Regions from separate parts of the Homo sapiens genome. Here regions 2 and 3 are each linked to region 1. Evidence: fine-mapped expression QTL. A gene starts in region 1. Each other region holds a variant in brackets. All regions are shown on one strand. Distances are between the middles of the regions.

Region 1 (6,730 bases):
TGCAGTGGTGTGATCTCAGCTAACTGCAACCTCCGCCTCCCGGGTTCAAGCGATTCTCCTGCCTCAGCCTCCTGAGTAGCTGGGATAACAGGCGACCGCCACCACGCTCAGCTAATTTTTGTATTTTAGTAGAGATGGGGTTTCACCATGTTGGCCAGGATGGTCTCGAACTCCTGACCTCAAGTGATCCACCCGCCTTGGCCTCCCAAAGTGCTGGGATTATAGGCGTGAGCCACCTCACCTGGCCAAGTTCAGCTTTTTTATTCAGTGTTCACTTGGGATGATGGGGGGTGGAGTGGAGGGGGTGAATAAAACCAGGGGTATGAAGCTGCCCCCCTCAGGCCACCCCTTGGTGCCATGGATATCCAGGCAGAGAACCCACAGGGAGTACACAGAATGTGGAGCCCAGCAGTCCGGGTTCAAACCAAGTCTCTGACAAGCCCAGGCCTTGAGCTAGCACAAGTCACTTCTCCAGGCTGAGCCTTAATTCTGTCATTTGTAAAACGGGGGGAAGATACCCACCCCACTTACAGAACCATGTGGTATTATGGCCAAAGCCCTTAAAAAATGAACCCTGAAAATGGCAACATTTCAAACATTTTATCATTTTCATTTTGTCAAAGTAGAGAATTAAAGAAACATTGACTGGGCACGGTGGCTCACACCTGTAATCCCAGCACTTTGGGAGGCTGAGGCGGGTGGATCACTAGGTCAGGAGTTTGAGACCAGCCTGGCCAAGATGGTGAAACCCCGTCTCTACTAAAAATTTAAAAAGTAGCTGGGCATGGTGGTGGGTGCCTGTAATCCCAGCTATTTGGGAGGCTGAGGCAGGAGAATCACTTGAAACCAGGAGGCAGAGGTTGCAGTGAGCCAAGATCGCGCCACTGCACTCTAGCCTGGAGACAGAGCGAGACTCCATCTCAAAAACAAAAAACAAACAAACAAAAAACTCATCTGCCAGCACTGATATTCATTCCCTATAGTCCATCTTAGCCCCCTGCAAAAAAGAATATAAACTCCAAATAAAAGGTGGTCCTTTCTATTAAATCAGTTTAGCTTCTTGCTGTAACTCCTTTTTTTCCCATCTGGCTTTAGAACAAAGAAATGAGTCACTGACAGGCGGCAGTCACCGCGCAACAGATCAGGCACTTCTGACCCAGCCCAGCCCAGTTCGGGTGGGAAGACTGAGGCACAGAGGGTGGGGAGGGGACACTTACTGAAGGTCACAGCTGTGGCCTGGGGGTGCCAGGAGTGGCAGCTGATCTGCCACTGGGGCGATGACACCAAGAGGTGAGAAAGCCTTAGTCAAGAGACAAGCCATGCCGGATGCAGTGGCCCACGCCTCGCCTCATCGTCCCAGCTGCTCACAAGGCTGAGGTGGGAGGATCACTTGAGTCCAGGAGTCTGAGACCAGCCTGGGCAACACAGCAAGATCCTGTCTCTAAAAAAATAAAAAAGAGACAAGCCAGGTCTTGGAGGCCCTGCTTCTGTGCAGGCTGACCCAGGGGCTCAGAGGGCTTGGGTTCCAGGGTGGGTCCAGGTTGGTGAGGCCCTGAAGCTTACATGATTTGGGGGCCCTCTTTTGGAAAAGCAACAGAAAAAAAAATCTTTCTTTTACAAATTTTACAAAAATCCCAGGTCCAGGCCGGGTGCGGTGGCTCACGCCTGTAATCCCAGCACGTTGGGAGGCCAAGGCAGGTGGATCACCTGAGGTCAGGAGTTCGAGACCAGCCTGGCTAACATGGTGAAACCCCATCTCTACTAAAAATACAAAAATTAGCTGGGCGTGGTGGTGTGTGCCTGTAGTCCCAGCTACTTGGGAGGCCGAGGCAGTAGAGTTGCTTGAACCTGGGAGGCGGAGGTTGCAATGAGCCGAGATGGCACCATTGTACTCCAGCCTGGGCAACAGAGCAAGACTCCATCTCAAAAAAAGAAAAAAAACAATCACAGGTTCATGTGCACATGCTGTTAGGGCCCCTCCAGGGCTGTGGTAGGGGTCTGGGTTGTCCAGGAGTCCTGGACAGGGTGACAAATTGTCCCTGTTTGTCTGGACTAAGGGCCTCTCAGAATGCTAAAGGCAGGAAGTTCCAGCACACCAGGATAAACGGGTCACCCTGGTCCTGGAGCTCAGCTTCACTTGCTCTGCCCTGTGGTGTGAGGGCCAAGAGCAGGCGCCAGCTGCATCCCCCGCAGCTCCTGATGTGTTTAAATGGCTCAGCACGCCACACAGTTTCGAAAAGACCAGAAGGAGACAGCACCCTATTCACTGCAGCCCTCCCTAAGTGGTGGTATCACATGATTACCACCCCCCACCAAACTTTTTCTGTTGTGGTAAAACACACGTAACATACAATTTACCATCTTCACCATTTCAGTGGTGTTAAGTACATTCCTACCGTGCAACCATCACATGTGATTTTTATACTTTCCAATAATTGGCAGGTATTACTCTGATCAGGAAAAAAAGCTACTTTTAAAGGTGTCAATCAGCCTGTATCAGACACCTCTTGGTTCGACAAAGGTAGTGAGCGCCTTGTATCCACGTGTGTGAGCAGGACTGGGAGGCTGTGGGGTCGTTTGAGCATTGGTTGGTCCAGGTGACCTTTGTGTCCTTTCCAATCCTGACATTCCAGGATTCTGGATTCTTCCCTGCCCCAGGGGGAGAACTACTCTTTGGAGACAGGAAGACCTAGGCTCAAATGCTCGTCTGCCACTTACATGCTTAGTGACTTTGGGCCAGGCACTTGGCCTCGCTCGCTGAGCCGCAGCTTCCTCTAGTGTTGGGGAACCAGCTAGGTAGCTGTGTGTGGTCTTGCACCCCATGGGTGCTCAGAGGGGCTGATCCTTCCTCCTGCTTTCCACGTCCTCTCCCCTGGATGTGCATATGTATAAACCCTCATCCCACCAGGCCCAATCTGACATCACCTTCACCATGAAATTTGATTCCACAGCAGGGAGACCCCTCTCCTGGCTCTTGCGGCCTCTGCCTGGGGGCACCTGGCTCACTCCCCAGTGGGACTGTGGCTTCCCGAGAACAAGGGCTGCTTCTGAGTCACGCTGCCTTCCCTTGGGGCCCAGCAGATTCAATAAAGCTTTGCTAAATGAAGGCATCAGAGGCAGAAATGACCCAAGCAGACAAGCCCCCTCACAAAGCCAGTGGCTTCGCCCTTCCAGGCCAGAGGCCCAGGGGTGGGCAGACTAAAGCAGTGAACGCAGCCCACCCGCCTGATCCGGCAGGTGCCCCCCAGGGCTCCCACCTTTGGCAAGGGTCTGTTGGGGCATCTGGGGAGCAGGAGACTGGCACAGATAAATGAATTCAGAGCCACAAACACAGATGTGCTGGGGTGCCCGGCTCTGTGCAGGCACCGACACAAGGGTTAAAGGAACTGGGCTTTCCTGCCCTCAAACAGCTCCCATCTGACGGCATTTGAGAAGAAAAGGCTTTAAATGGGGTCATCCTTCGCAGACCAGGGATACATACCCAAGCCATCCTACCAACCAGACCCTGAAAACCAAGGAAAGGAGGAAGCTTGGGCACCCTGAGGTCACAGCTGGCCTTGGGGTAGCCCCTGGGGTCCCTGACAGTCTAGCCCATTCCTAGTCTAAGCCCACAAGGAACGGGCCCCAGGCCTGCAGAGGCCAGAACCTCGAGTGGGAGTTTCTGGGATACAGCCAGCCAAACCCAGGGAGCCCCAGAAACCCCCTCTCCAGACCCCAGCAGGGCTTCTTTCCATGAGGTGCCACTCAAGGCACCTGAACCCCTCCCTCTGTGCTCACTGTCTCTGACCCATCCTCTCCCTGACCACCCGTCTGAACAAGAGCCCACTCAGCCCTCTGCACTGAGGACCCTGCCCCCCAGCTAGGCTGGAGGCCACCCTGGCCTCTTCACTGTGGGAGCAGACCTTTCTCCCAGACACCCGCCTTGGGCATCCAGGTGCATGCTGAGTGGGAGGGGTGTTACCGGTTCATGAAATGTCAGAGCCCAAGGGGGCCTCAAGAAGGCTCCGCCCACCTTGTCTATAAATTGGGAAACTGAGGCATGAGAGAGGAGATGACACTCCCCACCTCGGAATTGAAGTCCTCATTTCTCGAGAACATTTCCTGGGTGGCTCCCAGCCCAAGGTCACGCAGAGAAGGAGAGGCAGTTCCCGGGTGGAAGAGAGGTACTCAGTTCCCGACTCATCGCTCCACACGGGCCGGGCTAGGCAATACGAACCCGGTTCCCGGCCCTCTCCTCCTCCAACGTCCATCGCAGGCGCGGCATGCACCCCACCGAGATGGTCCACGCCCTGATCCACCCCCCAAAAAAGGCCACCTTAAACCCTGGCTCCGTCCCCACGGTCCCCAGTCCGCCCTGGCGGCCGCGCACAATCCGAGCCTTTCGCGGCATAGCCGCGGCCTGGAGGTCACAGCAATCGGGGCGGGAAGGGGGGCGCACGAACCGGGGGCCCCAGGAAACCAGGGCTCCGGGAGCCGGAGCGGCGTCTCCCGCGAGCACCAGGGATCCCGCCCGCCCCGGGCCCGGGAAGGAGGAGCGGCGGCAGCGGGCCCCGCAGGCAGGACAGCTCCTCGCCCGCCGCCGCGCCGCCGCCGGGGGCCCGTTGGGGTCGGGGTCGGGGTCGGTCCGGGCGCGCCGCCTTTGCTCACACCCCCACCACCCCGGCCTGGCAGAGCCGTCGGCCAGTCCGTCCTTACCCAAGACACGACGCGCAGGATGGTGTGCGGCTGCCGGACCAGGGTGTAGGGGTCGAAGGCGCCCCCGGCTTTGCCCGCTCCGTACGCACCCCCTTCCATCGTGGCTGCACCCGCGCGGTGCCCCCCGCTCGGCGCGCGCCGCCGGCCCGTGCGCGTGCGCGGCGCCCCCGCCCCCTCCCCTGCGCGCGCGGCCGGCGGCCCAGGGCTCCCGCGAGGGGGCGTCGTGCGCGGCGGGCGCAGCTCGCGGGGCGCGGGCGGGGGGCTGGGCAGCGCGCGACCTCGGGCGCGGGGGCGCGCGTGCTGCGGCCCGGGGCTCAGGGCGCGCTCGCAGCCAGTGCGGTGACCTCTTTGCAAAGTGTTTGGGGGAGGGCGGTGCGTGCACAGCAAGTGTGGGCCGTGTCCCTGCCCCGCATCCCCGGTCCCCTGCCCCGGTCGCAGCCCCTCTGAGCCGTCGGCTCTGCTGAAACCATCTTCACGCTTGATTTGTTTGGCTGTTTCCTGCCACTTTGTCGGCCCCAAATATAATGAGAGGGCAGGAGCTGTGTTCGTCCTTCTTAGAGGGTGCTTGGTACGCAGTAGGCGCCGCATGAATATTTCTCGAATGAATGAACCACGAGTGAATGACCCTCTCTTACAGCCCTCCAGAGCAGCCCCCACCTCCCAGGACCACCCTTCCCCTGCCTCTTACGATGACGTCATGTGTGTCCCTGTGCCCGCGCACCCTCCCACCCCCAGCCTGGAGGGGCCTGGCACAGAGGCGGCGGCTGAGACTTCCTCTTCCCCATCCCCTCCTACCCCAGAACGTTGCCCCTTTCCTGAATCTAGCAATTAATTACGCAATCATTTGTTCATGGCCTCTTCTGCTGCTAGTCTGTGAGCTCCCGAGGCCCAGGTGTTGTCTAACTTATTCAATGCCTTACCCAAGGGCCTAGCATACAGTAGGTGCTCAGTAAACAGAGCCTAGTCCCCATCACCCCATCACAGCTTGGGCTAGACCTCCAGGTTTCATGGAAACGGAGGCTAGATGGAGGAGTGCTCCCTGCAGGGGAAGGGCCACCTTCCAGGGCTGGCTCTCCTGCTGCCCTGTAGCTCTATGGCCTCTCTATGTCTGCAGTCACCTTCACTGGTTCCAGGAGCAGGTTGGATGAGGATATGGGTGGAGGCTTTTGCTTCTCTGGTATCCTGCCATTCTGTGATGACAGGACACAACATCTGTGTGGAGGAAATGTGTGCTGGGCCTGAGGGTGCTCCTTATAAAAATTACATAGTCAATGTCCATCTTAGGCTCAGCTGATTGTTTAGTCTCTACCAGGCCTTGTGCTAAGGGCTTTACATACATTTTCACATTTAATCCAGCACACTTATAAGGTGTCTACTATGACTATATAAAACTTTTAGAAGAAAGCACAAGAGAAGGCCGGGCGCAGTGGTTCACGCCTGTAATCCCAGCACCTTGGGAGGCCAAGGTGGATGGATCACAAGGTCAAGTGATTGAGACCATCCTGGCCAACATGGTGAACCCGGTCTCTACTAAAAATACAAAAATTAGCCGGGCGTGGTGGCGAGCTCCTGTAGTCCCAGCTACTTGGGAGGCTGAGGCAGGAGAATCACTTGAACCCAGGAGGTGGAGGTTGCAGTGAGCCGAGATCGCGCCACAGCACTCCAGCCTGGCAACAGAGCGAGACTCCGTCTCAAAAAAAAAAAAAAAAAAAAAAAATCATGAAGAACATGATTCATAAAAGAAACAATTGATAAACTGGACTTTATCAAAATTAAGAACTTCTGTTCTTTAAAAGACATTGTTAAAAGAATGTATGAAAAGACAAACGATAGTCTGGGAGAAAATATTTGCAAAGCATAGATCTAAAGAACTTGCATCCCAAATAAAGAACGTTCGAACTCAATAATAATAAGAGGACCCACTTTTTAAAAAATGGGCAAAAGATTTGAATAGTTATACACCTCACCAAAGAAGATATACACACGGCAACTCAGCACATAAAAAGATGCCCAGCATCCGCGGTGGCTCACGCCT
Region 2 (7,867 bases), 55 kb before region 1:
TGTGTCTCTACACTTATTTATGTCTTCACTGGGTGACTTTTATTTATTTATTTTTATTAACACAATTTTACTACAAGGTCTGAAAAGCTACTAACGCCTTCTAATAGCCTTTGAAAATAGACAGTATAACCAAACCCTACTAATGGAAATGAAAAAAAAAAGGAAGATGAAATGGCAGTAAGTGCTAGCTGAGCCAAGTATGTCACAACTAAATTAAAAAAAAAAAAAAGTAGAAATGGCAACAATTCTGCTCAGCTCCTCATGACACCAGGCTTAAATTTAACACTTTCAGTACAAGCAACGCCAAAAGAAAAACTGCTGACCTGGCACAGTGGCTCACGCCTGTAATCCCAGCACTTGGGGAGGCTGAGGCAGGTGGATCACTTGAGGTCAGGAGTTTGAGACTAGCCTGGGCAATGTGGCAAAATCCTGTCTCTACTAAAAATACAAAAATTAGCCAGGCGTGGTGGTGCGCACCTGTAATTCCAACTACTCAGGAGGCTGAGGCAGGAGAATCACTTGAATGCAGGAGGTGGAGGTTGCAGTGAGCTGAGATCACACCACTGCACTCCAGCCTGGATGACAGAGTGAGACTCAGTCTCAAAAAGAAGAAGAAAAACGGCTTCACAGTAACACAAAATTGGGTCTAGTTCTAATCTTGAACTGTTTCATTTTAAAGCAAAATTAATGCCTCTCTTAACATAAATGGGAACTTAGGTCTTCCGGACCCACATATGATATTATGTGATTACAGTACATTAAATCACTACATACATTCTTTCAATAAATATCTGCTGAGCATTTGCAACAGTCTGGCAGTATTCTGGGTACTGCGGACACAGAAGAGAAAACAGAGAGGCTCCTTATTTGAAGCCTCCCTTCTAGGGAGAGAGAGAATTCAAACACACAATACAATAATAAGGCAATCTCAGACAGCGCTACGTGCTAGGAAGAAAACACACCATGGTAATGGGACACAGCGTGATGGGCGGTGGGGGCCTCTAGATGAAGTGGTCAGAAAAGCAGACCTCTCTGGGGAGGTGACGTCTGAGCCAGACCTGAATGACTATGGGGCAGTGACCTTCTAGAAGGCAGAGAAGGAGGCTTCCAGGCAGAGGGAGCGGAACGTAAAAAGACCCTAAGATGGAAAAAAGCATGTCAGGTTTACGGAAGCACGAGAAGGCTGGTGTGGCCTCTCTAGTGAGCACAGGGGAAAGACGCTCCATGCCGTGTTTGCAAATATGTGTGCACGTATGTGCCTGGGGGGGAGGGCAGTGCAAGGCCTCTGGGCCATGGGAATGAGTTAATAACCAGTGAATTAAGTATTCTTCAGGTAACTGATAAATGTTGCCAATTATCCCCTATGTCTTAGATCTGCTTAGTATATTTTCATTTCCAGCGAGCTCACAAAAGTCTCCTATAACCAGGCAAATATACTTCCAAAGGTAGCTCCTTTTCTAGTCTGTCTCCTGCCACCAGCTGGAATGAAATTAATTATGAGGTTAAGCAGAAATACAAAAGCATCTACCCAGTCAGGAGTATCCCATGTCTTCCTCCTGAAAAGATGGCCAAAGAAGTCAATATTTAGCACCCCAAAGTGCCACAGGTGTTTTAAAGCATGGGAGGAAAAGATATTTCTATTTTCTAGAAGGCTGTGATTAAAAATGAGATTAAGATGAACTCATCCTCTCATATGAGATGAATAATATTAACACAAATGTGTCACCACAATGCAAAACCTGTCTTCGATGCTGTAATCACAGTTACCTCCTCTGCCAGTATCTAATTCCCATAAGGGACAGACACAGGCTTCCAAGGACTTGAATCTTTCTAAAAAAATCCATAGTTTCCCAGCCAAATAAATAAGACCCAAGCAACTTATGGGTCTGTTCCACATTAGACATACACTATTAAAAAAGGCCAGTGAGGCCAGGCACGGTGGATCAATCCTGTAATCCCAGCACTTTGGGAGGCCGAGGTGGGTGGATCACCAAGTCAGGAGTTCAAGACCAGCCTGGCCAATATGGTGAAACCCTGTCTCTACTAAAAATACAAAAATTAACCGGGTGTGGTGGCAAGCGCCTGTAGTCTCAGCTACTCGGAAGGCTGAGGCAGAAGAATTGCTTGAACCCAGGAGGTGGAGGTTGCAGAGAGCCGAGATCGCACACGCCACTGCACTCCAGCCTGGATGACAGAGCGAGACTCCGTCTCAAAAAACAAAAACAAAAACAAAAAACGCCAGTGAAATTGTCTTCCACAAGTAAAGAAAGAAACAAGCTCAAACAGGCAACTGAGGAACTTGCCACGTTGGTGTGTCATGGCACAAGAACAATTCATCTGAGAGCGTTTCACAACAGGAGACCAGGAGTAAGCTGATGATCTACTGACCACTGTATGCTGTGCTGTATTTGGCTGATGTGGGAATAACTAACTTTCCCAAATGAGAAAAACTGTGTGTCTGACGGCAATCAATCTACTGAGCACGTGCCTTGTTCATTAAGTACCCGTGAATAGTGTCTAGATATTTCAACACTGCTAAGTACTTTTTTAGGAAATCTGATTTTCATAATGTTGAGGCAGTAATATTTCTGGAATTTATTATTTTATAAACTGGCAAATGGTGTTTGGGTCAGTAAGTATGGACACTAGTGCTATTGTTTATCTAAGGAGTCTTGGTCCATTCTTGGTAAAAACACTCCAGAAAACAGAAACTGATGGCTCCTTTCTGAACATGCTACTCTGTATACTTCAGCCCTAATGCTGGCAACTTACTCAGTGGGGAACACTTCATTAAGATCAGGGCCATAGGGCTGGGCATGGTGGCCCACATCTGTAATCCCAGCACCTTGGGAGGCTGAGGCGGGCAGATCACGAGGTCAAGAGATTGAGACCATCCTGGCTAACATGGTGAAAACCCGTCTCTACTAAAAATACAAAAAATTAGGCTGGGCACGGTGGCTCACACCTGCAATCTGAGCACTTTAGGAGGCCGAGACCGGCGAATCACGAGGTCAGGAGATCGAGACCATCCTGGCTAACACAGCAAAACCCCGTCTCTACTAAAAATACAAAAAATTAGCCGGGCGTGGTGGCAGACGCCTGTAGTCCCATCTACTATCGGGAAGCTGAGGAAGGAGAATCGCTGGAACCCGGGAGGCAGAGCGTGCAGTGAGCCGAGATCACGCCACTGCACTCCAGCCTGGGAGACAGAGTGAGGCTCCCTCTCAAAAAAAAAAAACAAAACAACAACAAATGATCAGGGCCATAGCAAGGCTGCCCACTCTATTACTTCACACAGAACTGGAGGTGTTAGCCCAGGCAGTTAGACAGAGTAAAGAATGAGAGCATAAAAACCGGGAAAGAAGTCATTTCTATTTGCAGTTGATAGGACAGTACGCCTGGCAACCCTAAAGAATCAATGAAAAACTAATGCAAACAGAAAAAGAAATCAGTTAGGCGGCAGGATAGAAAATCAAAGTATGCAAATCAACAGCTTTCATATACCCAAGAGAAGATGAGCATCTAGCCTCTATGTAATGTAAAATAACAAAGTCCTTTTCCTGTGAGTTTCTACCATGTCTGTCTCCCCCAGCCAAACTACTATAGAAGGTTGTTTTAAATCTAAATTTATATCAGTCGAATTACATCTTAATGCATTCATCCCAGCCTTCCAGACTGTCGAAAGTTTTGAATTTTGCCCTTTGACAGATTAACAATCTCACTCAGCTGTGTATCTTGTACAGACAAGGCCTTCTACTCACTGTTCCAAACAATCTCTAAAAAACTGTGACCAGAGGCCGGGCGCAGTGGCTCACGCCTGTAATCCCAGCACTTTGGGAGGCCAAGGCGGGCAGATCATGAGGTCAAGAGATTGAGACCATCCTGGCTAACACGGTGAAACCCCGTCTCTACTAAAAATACAAAAAAATTAGGTGGGCGTGGTGGTGGGTGCCTGTAGTCCCAGCTACTCCAGAGGCGGAGGCAGGAGAATGGTGTGAACCCGGGAGGCAGAGCTTGCAGTGAGCCGAGATGGCGCCACTGCACTCCAGCCTGGGCGACACAGCAAGACTCCGTCTCAAAAATAAAAAATAAATTAAAAAAAAATAAAGAAAGAGTAAGAAAAAAATTACCCAAAGAGCATATGTAAAAGTACCCATGGTAAGGCAAAGCCTGTCCCTTTCTGTCTTTTTAAGTCCTATCTACCCTAAAGGCACTGCTCAAATCCAACTAGGGCCAGAGGCCCATGATTCCCAAACCTCAATCATCCACTGACCATCTTCAAGAAACTATCTTTCACTCAAATGATTCCTTTTTTTTTTTTTTTTTTTTTGGTGACAGTCTCACTCTGTCGCCCAGGCTGGAGTGCAGTGGCGCGATCTTGGCTCACTGCAAGCTCTGCCCCTCCAGGTTTAAGCAATTCTCTGCCTCAGCCTCTGGAGTAGCTGGGATTACAGGTGCGTGCCACCATGCCCGGCTAATTTTTTGTATTTTTAGTAGAGACGTGGTTTCACCATCTTGGCCAGGCTGGTCTTGAACTCCTGACCTTGTGATCCACACGCCTTGGCCTCCCAAAGTGGCCCTGTGGCAACCATTGTGCTATAGCCTGGTATTGTTAATTAGATTACCTTATTTCACTGATTTGAAGACCTACATTTTCCACATGTTAACGTCTCTGGAGTTGGTATGTTACAAGTTAATTAGCTGTGAGTTCTCTTTCTGAGCAATAGACAAAACACTGACGTGTCCTTAAAACATTGGTGTCTTAGATCCAATGACACATGGGCAGTTTCTCACGTAATTCGGGCGCTCGCCAGACACTGGTTCACTACAGTGGCCGGAGAACCTCAGGAGGTTCTACCAAGTGGGAGTGAGAGTATCTGGTCTTCTCCGTGTTCCCCAGCGGACTCACGCTGCTGCAGCTGAGTAGGCTTGGATCGTGTTCTCCCGTCCCTTTCCATCTCCATCGAGGATTAGCCATACCGAG[C/T]GTCCATTGCTGATTCCATTAAAGCCTACAGGACTGCCAAGTCTCTCGCTTCCTTCCTCCACATTTCTGAACAATTTTCAGAAAGGTCATGTACTTTCTATTCACACAAACCACCCACCCCTCCACCCCTGCACACACTGATGCATACTTTCTCCCACGCCCCCAAATGCCAGGCCTGCCAGCACCAGCCGTGAGCGGCGCTGGAGCGCAGGGAGCAAGAGTCTGCGAGAAGCTGAGAAGGGGGCGTCTCTCACTCAGCACAGCCTCATCGCGGAGCCACTGCAACACACACAACAGCGAACGCAGGACTTAACTCTTCCATGTCTGAGAAATGAACTGCTCATGAGAAATTTCACAAGAATACGTTAAGAAGCCTGTTTCAAAAGACCTAATTTTGATTTGATTTTGTGAAGGAGTTTCCAAAATTAATGTTTCGGTATGAAAAGCTTCTACAGTGATCCAACAGTATTTAACCCAACAAGGCCTTTACAAACACCCTGTGCATGATGTAAGCATTCACTCCTCATGTATATATGTGTCCATGTCACATAATAGTTCACAAAGTACCCACACAGACTCATCTCAAAGTCCTGGGCAGCAGAAATGGACAAAGAATGGTTCCAAGCTCAGGCCACAGCTTGAATACCAAATTATGCTATGAAAAGGCCAAGTGTTTTTGTGGTAAAAGCACCCACATTCCTTAGAAGCAAAAAGGAAGCTCAGAAAGGGAGACTCACAACCCCAGGAAGAGGGCTCGGAGCAGGGGAGCAGCAGACCTTTCTCTCCAAAAAGCTTCCAAGGCCCCAATGCCCCCACCACCTCCAACCTTCCGGATGACCCACTTCTCTGAGACCAGCTCCACTCCTGGCCCCCACTTCTCCCACCGGAGTTTTCATTGAAGGTTCTCCATGTCGTCATCCTAAAGAGCTCCTCATTCATTCTTAAAGGGGCTAATAATCATTGTTGGCACTTCCAATGTGCTAGGGCAGCAGCTGGGTGTATGCAATGGGTATAGGTGGTACCCCCATGGACCTTTTTATTTTAGTGGCTATGTATTTATTTTAACATCCTTTAGATAAATTACACAGATAGCAGCACCTATGATCTCAGATATAATTGCTCAGGACATGTCGAAGTTTAAAAAATTGATTTTAAGCTTACTTTCTTTTTTTTTTTTTAAACAGGTCTTGCTGTGTCACCCAGCCTGGAGTGCAGTGAGGGGATCATAGCCTCACTACAACCTCAAACTTCTGGGCTCAGGCAATCACCCCATTAAGTCTCCTAAGTACTACAGGCACATACCACCATGCCTCACTAATTTTTTTAAAGACTGAATCTCACTATGTTGCCCGAGCTGATCTGGAACTCCTGGCCTCAAGTGATCCTCCTGCCTCAGCCTCCCAAAGGGCTGGGATTCCAGGCATGAGCCACCATGCCTAGCCTGATTTTCTTTTTTATAATTAAGTAACAGTACAGGCAAAATCAAACTCTTGATTCCCCCTGCCCCAGGGTGCCCCTCTTCCAGGGCTCCCTCACCCCGTAAATGGCACCACTGTTGTTTAAACCAAAACCTTAAGAGTCCTTTTTGACTCTTCTTCCTCTGTCACACACCTCACATTCAATCCATCAGCAAATCACATGAGCTCTTCCTCCAAAACACAACTGGAATCTGATACTTCCCACCATTCTTCTGCCATCCCCATGGCCAAGACACCTTCTCGCACCTGGATGACTCTAGGAGTCTCTTAGGAGGTCCCAGGCTTCCACTCTCACCACTCAAACTCAAAAGAGGGATTTTTCGGCCGGGCACGGTGGCTCACGCCTGTAATCCCAGCACTTTGGGAGGCCGAGGCTGGCAGATCACGAGGTCAGGAGATCGAGACCATCCTGGCTAACACGGTGAAACCCCGTCTCTACTAAAAAAAAAAATACAAAAAGTTAGCTGGGTGTGGTGGTGGGTGCCTGTAGTCCCAGCTACTTGGGAGGCTGAGGCAGGAGAATGGCGTGAACCTGGGAGGCGGAGCTTGCAGTGAGCTGAGATTGCGCCACTGCACTCCAGCCTGGGCAACAGAGCGAGACTCCGTCTCAAAAAAAAAAAAAAAAGAGGGATTTTTCTCCAATCAAAAGTCACATCACATCAGGTCCCTACTCAATCTGCTCCCCATGAAAGCTTCACATCACATGAAGAATGGAATCCAGAGGCCACATCAGGACCTGTGAAGCCCAGCATGGCCCCCGGCTCCCTCAGACCTCAGCTACTCCCAAGCTCCCCCAAGGCACTCCACCCAGCTGCACCAGCACCCCTGAGGCTCCTGAAACAGCAGCCTTTGCATCTCCTGCTCCCTTGGGCAGGAATGCTGCCCCCATTTCCCCGTTTTCATCTCATCAAATGTGGAGAAGTCTTCCCTTACCACCCTGTCCAAAATGGCACCCCCAACATTCTGTGTGTGAATCTAGACTGTTCCTCATAGCACCACCTGATGCTGTAGTTTGGATATTACAAAATCACAGATGATCTGTATCTGTTCGGTGCTCACTGTCTGTCCCCTTTACTAGACCATCAGCTCCACAAAGGCGGTGTCTCCTGCACCTGCAGGGTGCCTAGCACATAGTGAGTGCTCAGGGACATTTAAGGGAATGAACAGCATTCACTCACGGCAGCACTGAAGGTAGAAGTTTCTGGTTAGCGGGCAACCAAGCCAGGCTAGTAGTGGAATGTGTCAGTTCCTTTAACACCAACAATACTCCCCAGAGTCCTCTTGGTTTGGAGAAACTAAGGCTCAGGGACATAAAGTGATTTGCCCAAAGCCAGTATGAGACTAACACTGTTTTATCCGGCTGAAAGGTCTGGGTCCTTTTGAACACATCAAGCTCTCCTTAGAA
Region 3 (7,867 bases), 30 kb before region 1:
AGGTTAGGGGTCTCCCAGGGCTAACAGGCAGGGTGTCTCAGTTACATGGGGAAACCTGGGATCCCCGAGGCTTTGAAGATCAAGAATCACCAGGGAAGGATGGAGTAGGGAACTAACGTCAGTCCCCTGGGAATTAGCCCCTCAACTGCGACACCCCCAGGTGGATAGGAGCCGTGCAGGCAGGACAGTCTGTGACTGCCCAGGATGAGCCAACTCAGAAGGCAGAAGACCTGACTCCTGAACCTCTCCCTCTGTGCTTGACCTTGGACAAGTCGCTGTCTCCCTACCCCAGACTCTGCCGACTCTAAGCGTCCTTGCGACTCTACACTTATGTGAAACCTTTTTTCCTGGGCCCTCTCTTGTGCTTGATGGGGAGGAGGGAGCCACCCTGCAGGGTCCAGCTGCAGGAGGGCCCTTCTCCAAGGAAAGCTTTGGGAGCAAGGGAGAAGTAGGGGAGGGCAGCTGGGAGGAAAAGGGATACCGGACAGAGTTGGGCCTGGGGTTCCCCAGGGGCTGTCCTCTGCCAACAGAAGGAGCGAGTTTCCCCATGAACCTTCCAGGGCAGAGTCAGGAGCCCTGGGTCCCATCCAAATCTCGCCCTCCATCTCTCACCCTCTCTCATCTCCATCCTGGGCAGGTCCCTGCCAGAGCCCAGCCTGATGGGGAAGATCATGCCTGGAAGGGCTTCTGGGCTGAACCCGGGAAGAGTGAGGGATTCTTCGTGAGATGACTCAGCACCCCCCATTCCTGGCAGGAGTCTTGACAGCTTTCCCTGCCTAGGGTGGCAGGCAGGGCCTGTCACAAACACCCAAGATGGAGTTAAGCTTACCTGGTACCCTGCCCTCCGGCTGAGGATCACCAGCAGCTGGCTGGCACCCGAGGAGAAACAGATGGGCAGTACCCTGAGGTCTCCTAGTGCCCATCAGCAGGAGAGGCTTTTGGTGGACAGTGGGTGAGGGTCAGAACATCTCACAGCCTCTTGTGGTGGGCACAGAACTTCACTCTGCCATAAACACTCCTGCCCTCACTCACGCCCTCACCTTTGGCCTGGTACAGGTTTCACTCTTCAGGCCAACAGATAACCTGCCCCCATGCTGGTCCCATGTGGGCCACCTGGCGGCGGGGGACTGTGGACAGAGCCCCTTCTCCGGATTGGAAAATGAAGTCAGCAACAACCAGCTGTCACACAGCTGGCTGGGGTCCTCTCCATCACTGCTGTCCTTTGGGAGGACTTGGACACACCTGAGTTTAGATCCGTGTTCCACTGCCAACTCGCCTATGCTTGCCGAGCCTCAGTTTCCCTTCTGTTAAATGGGGATAATGGTGCTACTTCTCTGCTTAGGACTTCCTCCTCTTTCCCTTAACTCTGGCCCAGCTTTGGGGCCATCGAAGCAGGGACCACCCATGCCCTTGGTATCTCCAGCACAGGGGCCGGGTAACTGCTGAGTGAGTAAGCAGGTGAGGGATCGCCTGCCTCTTAGGATTCTTAGATGGGGGATGGGGGGATGGTGGTGAAAACACCCAGCACTGGGCCCGTCCACCACCTGCTCTGCTCTGCTCCCTGAAGGACAGGCCAGTGGACACTGGGTGGACAGGGGGATGGGCCCCCAGCGCTCTCCCATACCTCCCTGTCCCTTATGGCTCAGTGAAGAGCCCACCTTGTGCAAGAATCGACCTGCCCCCACTCAGAAGAGATTATGACCTCCTCAGGCCCCACGGCCCTCTTTGGGCCTTTGGGTCACCTGCCACACTCTCCCCTACAGCCCATGGTCTTCCCTGGGCCTCCCATGCCTCAGGGGCTCTTGCCTGTGTCATCCTGGGGGCAGTGTCTCTCCACGGCCACAGCCCAGGAGCCGACCTGGCTGATTCCAAAGCCCTGTCCTTGCCGCTCTGCCTCCCATAGGGAGGCTGGCTCCACAGTGGGCCTTCTGGAAGGCCAAGGAAACACCTCTCATGCGCTTGGCTGCTGCAGCCCCCGAACCCTGACTGACCCCAGATGAGAGGAGAGGTGACATAGTGTCCCAGATCAGTTCTGTTTCCTGGGAGGTCACAAGGGCAGGGAATCGAGGCACCTGCTGGGCAGCTGGGGCCAAGAAACCCAGGCGTCAGGGCCAGCTTTGCCACTCACTCACCGTGACCTCGGGCCAGTCACACCCTCATCTGTGCCTTGTTGTCCACCCAGCCCTAGGTAAGGGCTTAGTGACCCCTCCTAGAGGCAAGGACAGTGATCAGTCCTTTGAGAGACCACGAAGGGGTTTGCTGGAGCCCCCTGGAACAAGCGTCTGTGGGACACGCAGAGCACAGAGCAGCACCCGGGGTGAGCCCTCTTGGAGGAGGCCAAGGGCCAGGGGTAGGACCAGGGGGATGTGGGTGGAGGGACCCGGAGGTGGGGCTGTCCCCAGGGGAGGAGGAACAGCTGGGGCAGAACAGGCCCTTGGCATGCAGCAGAATCAGGGTGTCTCAAGGGGCTGAGGGCCCCAAGGCCTCCCAGAATGACAGTAACACTGAGCAGGGAAGCCCCAAGCGTGGGGATGGTAGGAGGTGGGTGGCCAGGGAAGAGCACGTGGTCTGCAGTCGGGCAGCCTGGGCTTGGCCCCACCTCTATCACTAGCTGCCTGAGTGATTCTGGGCAAGTAATCTTGACCTCTCTAGACCTCAGTTTCCTCAACCATAAAATGGAGACGGCCCTGACACTCTTAGCAGGACTGCCAGAGCAGGGTGACAGCCCCCAGTGTCCTGTGGGTGTTTACACTCACCCTATGACCAAGCCACGGTGTAGCCACACTTCCCAGCATTATCTGGATCTGTCTTTCCCACCATTCTGGCCTCTGGTACCACCAGGGCTTCCTCCACAGCTCATCGCTCCCCTTTCCAGTGGCCATTTCTGCCAATGTCACCACCCATGCCCAGCACAGGCCGGATGCCCAGTAGGCGCTCAAGGAATGCTTGATGACACAATGTATGAATGCAAATACCCCTGGCCCCCACCCTCTAGGCCCCTGCGGGGCACATGCCCTGGGATATACTTGCACATACGTAGACAGTCCCCAACACTGGACTGCCCCACCCCTGCCCCGAGCTACCCTGGACCTCAGTGGGACAAGGCAGAGGCTGATGAGGCGCTGGGCAGGGCAGCCTGGGCAGGAGCAGGGGCTGGGTGTGGAGAGAGGGGACAGATGGGGAGGGGCGGGGGCAGGCGGTCACTGTGGCTCAGTAGCCCTGCGACTGGTAGCCCTGGGGCTCGGTGTCGAAGGTGTTGGCCGGCTGCTGGTAGGTGCCGCCCATACCGGCGGGATCCGGCCCAGTGGGCTCCACGTAGGGCGCGTAAGGCATGCTGGAGTCCTGGCTGGGGTCCATGTAGTCCTGGGAGAAGAGGGCCGAGTCGGCGCCAATCTGGTACCGCTGGAAGGCCAGCACAGCCTGGCCCGCCTGGGGACAAAGGCCGGCGAGGACAAGGACAGGCGGGAGGGGGTGGTTAGGGGAGAGACAGACAAGAGCACTGGGTTAGTGGTGGTTAGTTCACAGGACACAGGCAGGAGAGGGTTAAAGATCCTCAAAGCACCAAACATGAGACCAAGCTTGGCTGTGGAGAAGGAAGGCTGTTCTCGCAGCCACCCCCGGAAATGCCCAGAACCATATCATCCAGCCAGAAAGTACCCCAGAAATCACCTGCCCCTGTCTCCCAATCCCAGAGGTCAGTCTGGGCTACCAAAAGTTCTAGATCTCCATTATGGAGTGTTAAGATGGCTCAAAGGCTCACAACAGCCTTCTTAAAAAAAGCTTCTCAGCGGGACAAAGGACTGTTAGCATCTCCTAAGAGTCATTCTTTTGTCTCTCTTGCAGCTAGGCATGGCCATGTGACTACGTTTTGGCCAATGGGGTACCCTCATGTTCTCTGTCCCACCCTCTGACCTGATGCCTGGAACACAGATGTGATGGCTGGAGCTCTA[A/G]TTGCCAAAAGGGACCACAAAGACCATGAGCCAAGTCTGTAGGAATGAAAGATGCCTGGGGGCCATGCACCGCGGCTCATGCCTGTAATCCCACAACTTTGATAGGCCAAGGTGGAAGGATTGCTTGAGGCCAGGAGATCAAGACCAGCCTGGGCTAAAATATGCACCTCTGGCATATTGACTATGTTGAGTTAAAGGCACTTGAAAAACAGCAGGCACAATAACAATCTGATCTTCTTCTTGAAAGCAGGAGAGGCCAGGCGCGACAACTCATGCTTGCAATCCCAGCACTTTGAGAGGCCAAGATGGGCAGATTACTTGAGGTCAGGAGTTTGAGACCAGCCTGGCCAACATGGTGAAACCCCATCTCTACTGAAAATTAAAAAAATTAGCTGGGCATGGTGGCATCACCTGTAATCCCAGCTACTCGGGAGGTGCAAGCAGGAGAATCGCTTGAACCCAGGAGGCGGAGGTTGCAGTACCCTGAGACAGCGCCACTGCACTCTAGCCTGGGCAACAAAGTGAGACTGTCTCAAAAAAAAAAAAAAAAAAAAAAAAGGCCAGCTTGGGCAACATAGCAAGACCCCATCTCTACCAAAAAAATCCACAAAAACCAAATTAGCCGGGCATAGTGGTACTGGCCTGTAGTCCCAGCTACTCAGGAGGCTGAGGTGGGAGGATTGCCTGAGCCTATGGGTTTGAGGCTGCAGTGAGCTATGATCCAGCCTGGGCAACAGAGTGAGACCCTGTCTCTAAAAAAAAGGAAAGATGCCTGGGTCACCGAAGACCTCTGGAGCCAGTATGCCAGCCCTGGACCACTTCCACAGCCTTGGACTTTGTTGAAATCACTGTTATCTGGGATTTCGGTCACCTGCTGCTGAACCTAATTCTAAGTGAGAAACTGAGTTAAATAGAGTGAAACAAGTTTCAGGATCATCTGACTTGGCAGAGCCCTGACTATTCAATGTGACCGCGCCTAGCCTGAAGCCGCCCCGTTTTTTTTTTTTTTTTCACAGATCTCAGATTGGGAAAGACTTGTCTACAGCACACATGCATGGTTAGGAAATTATTTTTCAATAAAAGCAATTACATTGTTATTAAGGACAATGACACTGACCACACTGAGCTAAGTCAAAGTTTAAGTAAATCAAACTTGTCATTAGAAAAGCAGCTTAGAGGTTTATTGCAAAAGCCTTCTCCAGAAACTTTCCCGGCCCGGGGAATCTGCCTGTGATGGGAATGTGCTGATACTCTCCAGACCCCTGTTTTAGGGCTGGGAAGATTGAGGCCTAGAAAAGGAAGTGCCCGTGGCAGAGTTACTGCTAGAACCCTTCCCTAAACATGGGGTCCTACCCCTTCCCAGGTCAGGGCGCCCTCACCTCCTTCCCTTTCACTGGCCCCTGACGAGGCACTAAGTCAACCAACAACCTAAAGAGCCACTTAGTGAAGAGGTAGAGAGTGAATATACCTAGCGTTTTATTCCACAAAGTTCCAGAAACCCAGTGACTGGGCATTTCCTTTTTTTTTTTCTTTTTTTTTTTGAGACAGAGTCTCGCTCTGTCACCCAGGATGGGGTGCAATGACACAACCTTGGCTCACTGCAACATCTGCCTCCTGGGTTCAAGTGATTCTCCTGCCTCAGCCTCCCAAGTAGCTGGGATTACAGGTACCCGCCACCACACCAAGCTAATTTTTGTATTTTTAGTAGAGACGGGGTTTTGCCATGTTGGCCAGGCTGGTCTCAAACTCCTGACCTCAGGTGATCCGCCTGCCTTGGCCTCCCAAAGTGCTGGGATCACAGGCATGAGCCACCATGCCCAGCTAGGGCATTACCTTTTGATTGTACTCATTGACCAAAGTTCTGAGGGGAAGCACTTTCTGGGAGGTGGGTATTTAAAGCAAAGTGCCAGCACCTTGGGAAAGGCAGACTAGGTCTAAAGAAATTGGGCTAAGGGATAAGGTGTAGCCCTCTGGGGTTTCCCACTATGTTAGCATGAGGTCCTGGCTGCTGGGGGCTCAGACGCCGGAGCCTGAAGAAGCAGGGGAGGTGAAGAGCCCCCTGAGGGTACACTTGAGCCCTGGCCAGCCCACAGGAACTGACTGAATGAACCTTGAGAGCAATGTCTGTAGACGCGGTTCTCCCCGAGCTCCCTGGCTCTACTATCCAGGCTGGTTTCCTGTACAGAGGCAGAGGGCTGGAGCAGATGACCCCTACTGATCCTTCTAGGGAGATGCCTCTGGCTGTAGGCACTCATACTGTCTCTGTGTTCAGCTCTCTGCCCTCACTAAGTCAAAGCTTCATTTGGGCAACCAGTTTAAGGGGCCACAAGACAGGAGCAAAGGAGAGGCCTGGGCCCCCGCTGGCCTGGGCTGCAGAGGGAGGATGGGAGTTCTACTGAGAGCCCAGGGACCTGGTGGTCCCCTGGCCCCACTTTCTCAGTGTAGGTGCTCTCTCTGCAGCATCTCCAGCGTGCAGCAGGCAGTCTGCATCTGCACTGGGATGCCTCCAGTGCCAGGAAGCTCACTCTCGATGTGCTCAGGCCCTCGCAGGGTTGAGGCATTGCTTTGGGGGAACTGTCTGTGCTCCACCAGCCTCCTCAACTCCAGCAGAGAGTGGAGGAATGGGTGAGTTCCTGCCCAGGCAGCTGGGGGCCTCAAGCAGGAAACCTGTGTAGAACCAGAGACCAAAATCCTTTGGAGGAACAAGGATTCATCACATGAGAATTACTCTTAAAGTAGAGATTCTGGAGGTGCCCCTGACTCTCTGGAGAGAAGAATGAATGAATGAATGAATGAATGAACAAAAGAGCTTACATTTATTGAGCATGCTTGTGCTAAGCCCTGGGCTGGCCTTTGTTTCATTGGCACAACAGCCTTGAGAGGTTGGTCCATTATCACCCCTCAGTTCAGGTAAGTGGACTGAGGCTGAGAGAGGTGCACGGGTTTGTCAGGGTCACATAGCACATGAGGACAGAGCCAGACCAGGAGCCCTGTGACATCCTCGGCCAGGATGCTAACCCTAAGGACAGTGAGGTCACTCTTCACACCGCTGTGAAGGGAGAGGCTATTGCTCTGCACCCACAGCTCAGCAATGGGGACCATGAACGCCTCTAGGCAGCCCATGTATGGGGCCGCTACCTACCTGGTAACTGTCCACGGCTGTCCATTTGGAAGAGATATTGATGTGTTTGTTTTCTCCTCCCCAGCCTGTGGGCTCCTGGAGCCAAGGACCCCACCTAATTCATCACTAGGCACAAAACAGCTGCTCAATAAATGTTTACTGAATGAATGAACGCATGAAGAATCAATGAAGGAGGCGGTGAAGGAATGAATGAGTCAGTGGAGAACCTGAATTGGTTCCTCAAGCCAGCCTTCCACTGCCCTGCATGCCCTGGCATCTTGGACATTTCTGGCACTAGGCTGCTCCTGCCACCTCACTGCCAGGGGTGATACAGGGCTGCCGGCCTCTGCAAGCCGGGGAGGCCTACGGCTGTGCCGAGGCAGGGAACAGTGTGCTGTACTCCTCCTGGAAGCTTAGGTCCTTGAATCTCCGCACGGCCAGGGCTGCGGTCAGGCTCTGCCAGGAGAGAGTAGGGGTGAGGCCAGTGGGGAAGAGCTGCAGAGGTGCCAGGAGGGAGGCTGGCTTCAGGGGGCCGGGCAGGCACCTGTTGGTCAGGTACTTCAGACCCATGGCTAGAAATCATCCACTACTCCTCTGTGAGCCCCGCCCCTAAACTCCTCCCTGTAGGCTGGGTGGTCCCCACTTCTGGGGCACCTTCTCTGGACTGAGATCCCCTGGGGTCACCTGGTTCTTCCTACCCAGTCTTGAGGACACTGAGGGGTGGAGCAGCCAAGGCTGGCCCACTAGGGCCTGAACCACGGGTCTCCCCCTCCAAATGCTATCTTCTAATATTGTT

Which allele goes with the higher level. Alleles are on the strand shown, and positions count from the first base shown. SD is a standard deviation of normalised expression in the study named. Not every link is listed here.
For the expression in tibial artery of the gene that starts at base 4,814 in region 1, allele C in region 2 goes with a lower level than allele T (small effect, 0.23 SD a copy in GTEx).

The links.
Region 2: its variant is fine-mapped to the expression of SYNGR1 in tibial artery (GTEx, PIP 0.93).
Region 3: its variant is fine-mapped to the expression of SYNGR1 in whole blood (TOPMed, PIP above 0.99).

What each region holds. Positions count from the first base shown.
Region 1 is chr22:39,348,075-39,354,804 of GRCh38, reverse strand. It overlaps SYNGR1 (synaptogyrin 1), which reads right to left and starts at 4,814. Exons shown (of 4, transcript NM_004711.5): 1 at 4,696-4,814. The coding sequence starts at 4,794. RefSeq lists an enhancer at 3,335-3,384 and a silencer at 4,608-4,767.
Region 2 is chr22:39,402,861-39,410,727 of GRCh38, reverse strand. The region is part of intron 1 of TAB1 (TGF-beta activated kinase 1 (MAP3K7) binding protein 1); the gene reads right to left. Among named protein-coding and RNA genes, the nearest start is that of TAB1, 7.0 kb to the right of the region's middle. The variant C/T (reference allele first, on the strand shown) is at 4,985.
Region 3 is chr22:39,377,258-39,385,124 of GRCh38, reverse strand. It overlaps SYNGR1 (synaptogyrin 1), which reads right to left. Exons shown (of 4, transcript NM_004711.5): 4 at 1-3,429. The coding sequence ends at 3,211. Among named protein-coding and RNA genes, the nearest start is that of TAB1, 19 kb to the left of the region's middle. RefSeq lists a silencer at 47-341. The variant A/G (reference allele first, on the strand shown) is at 3,951.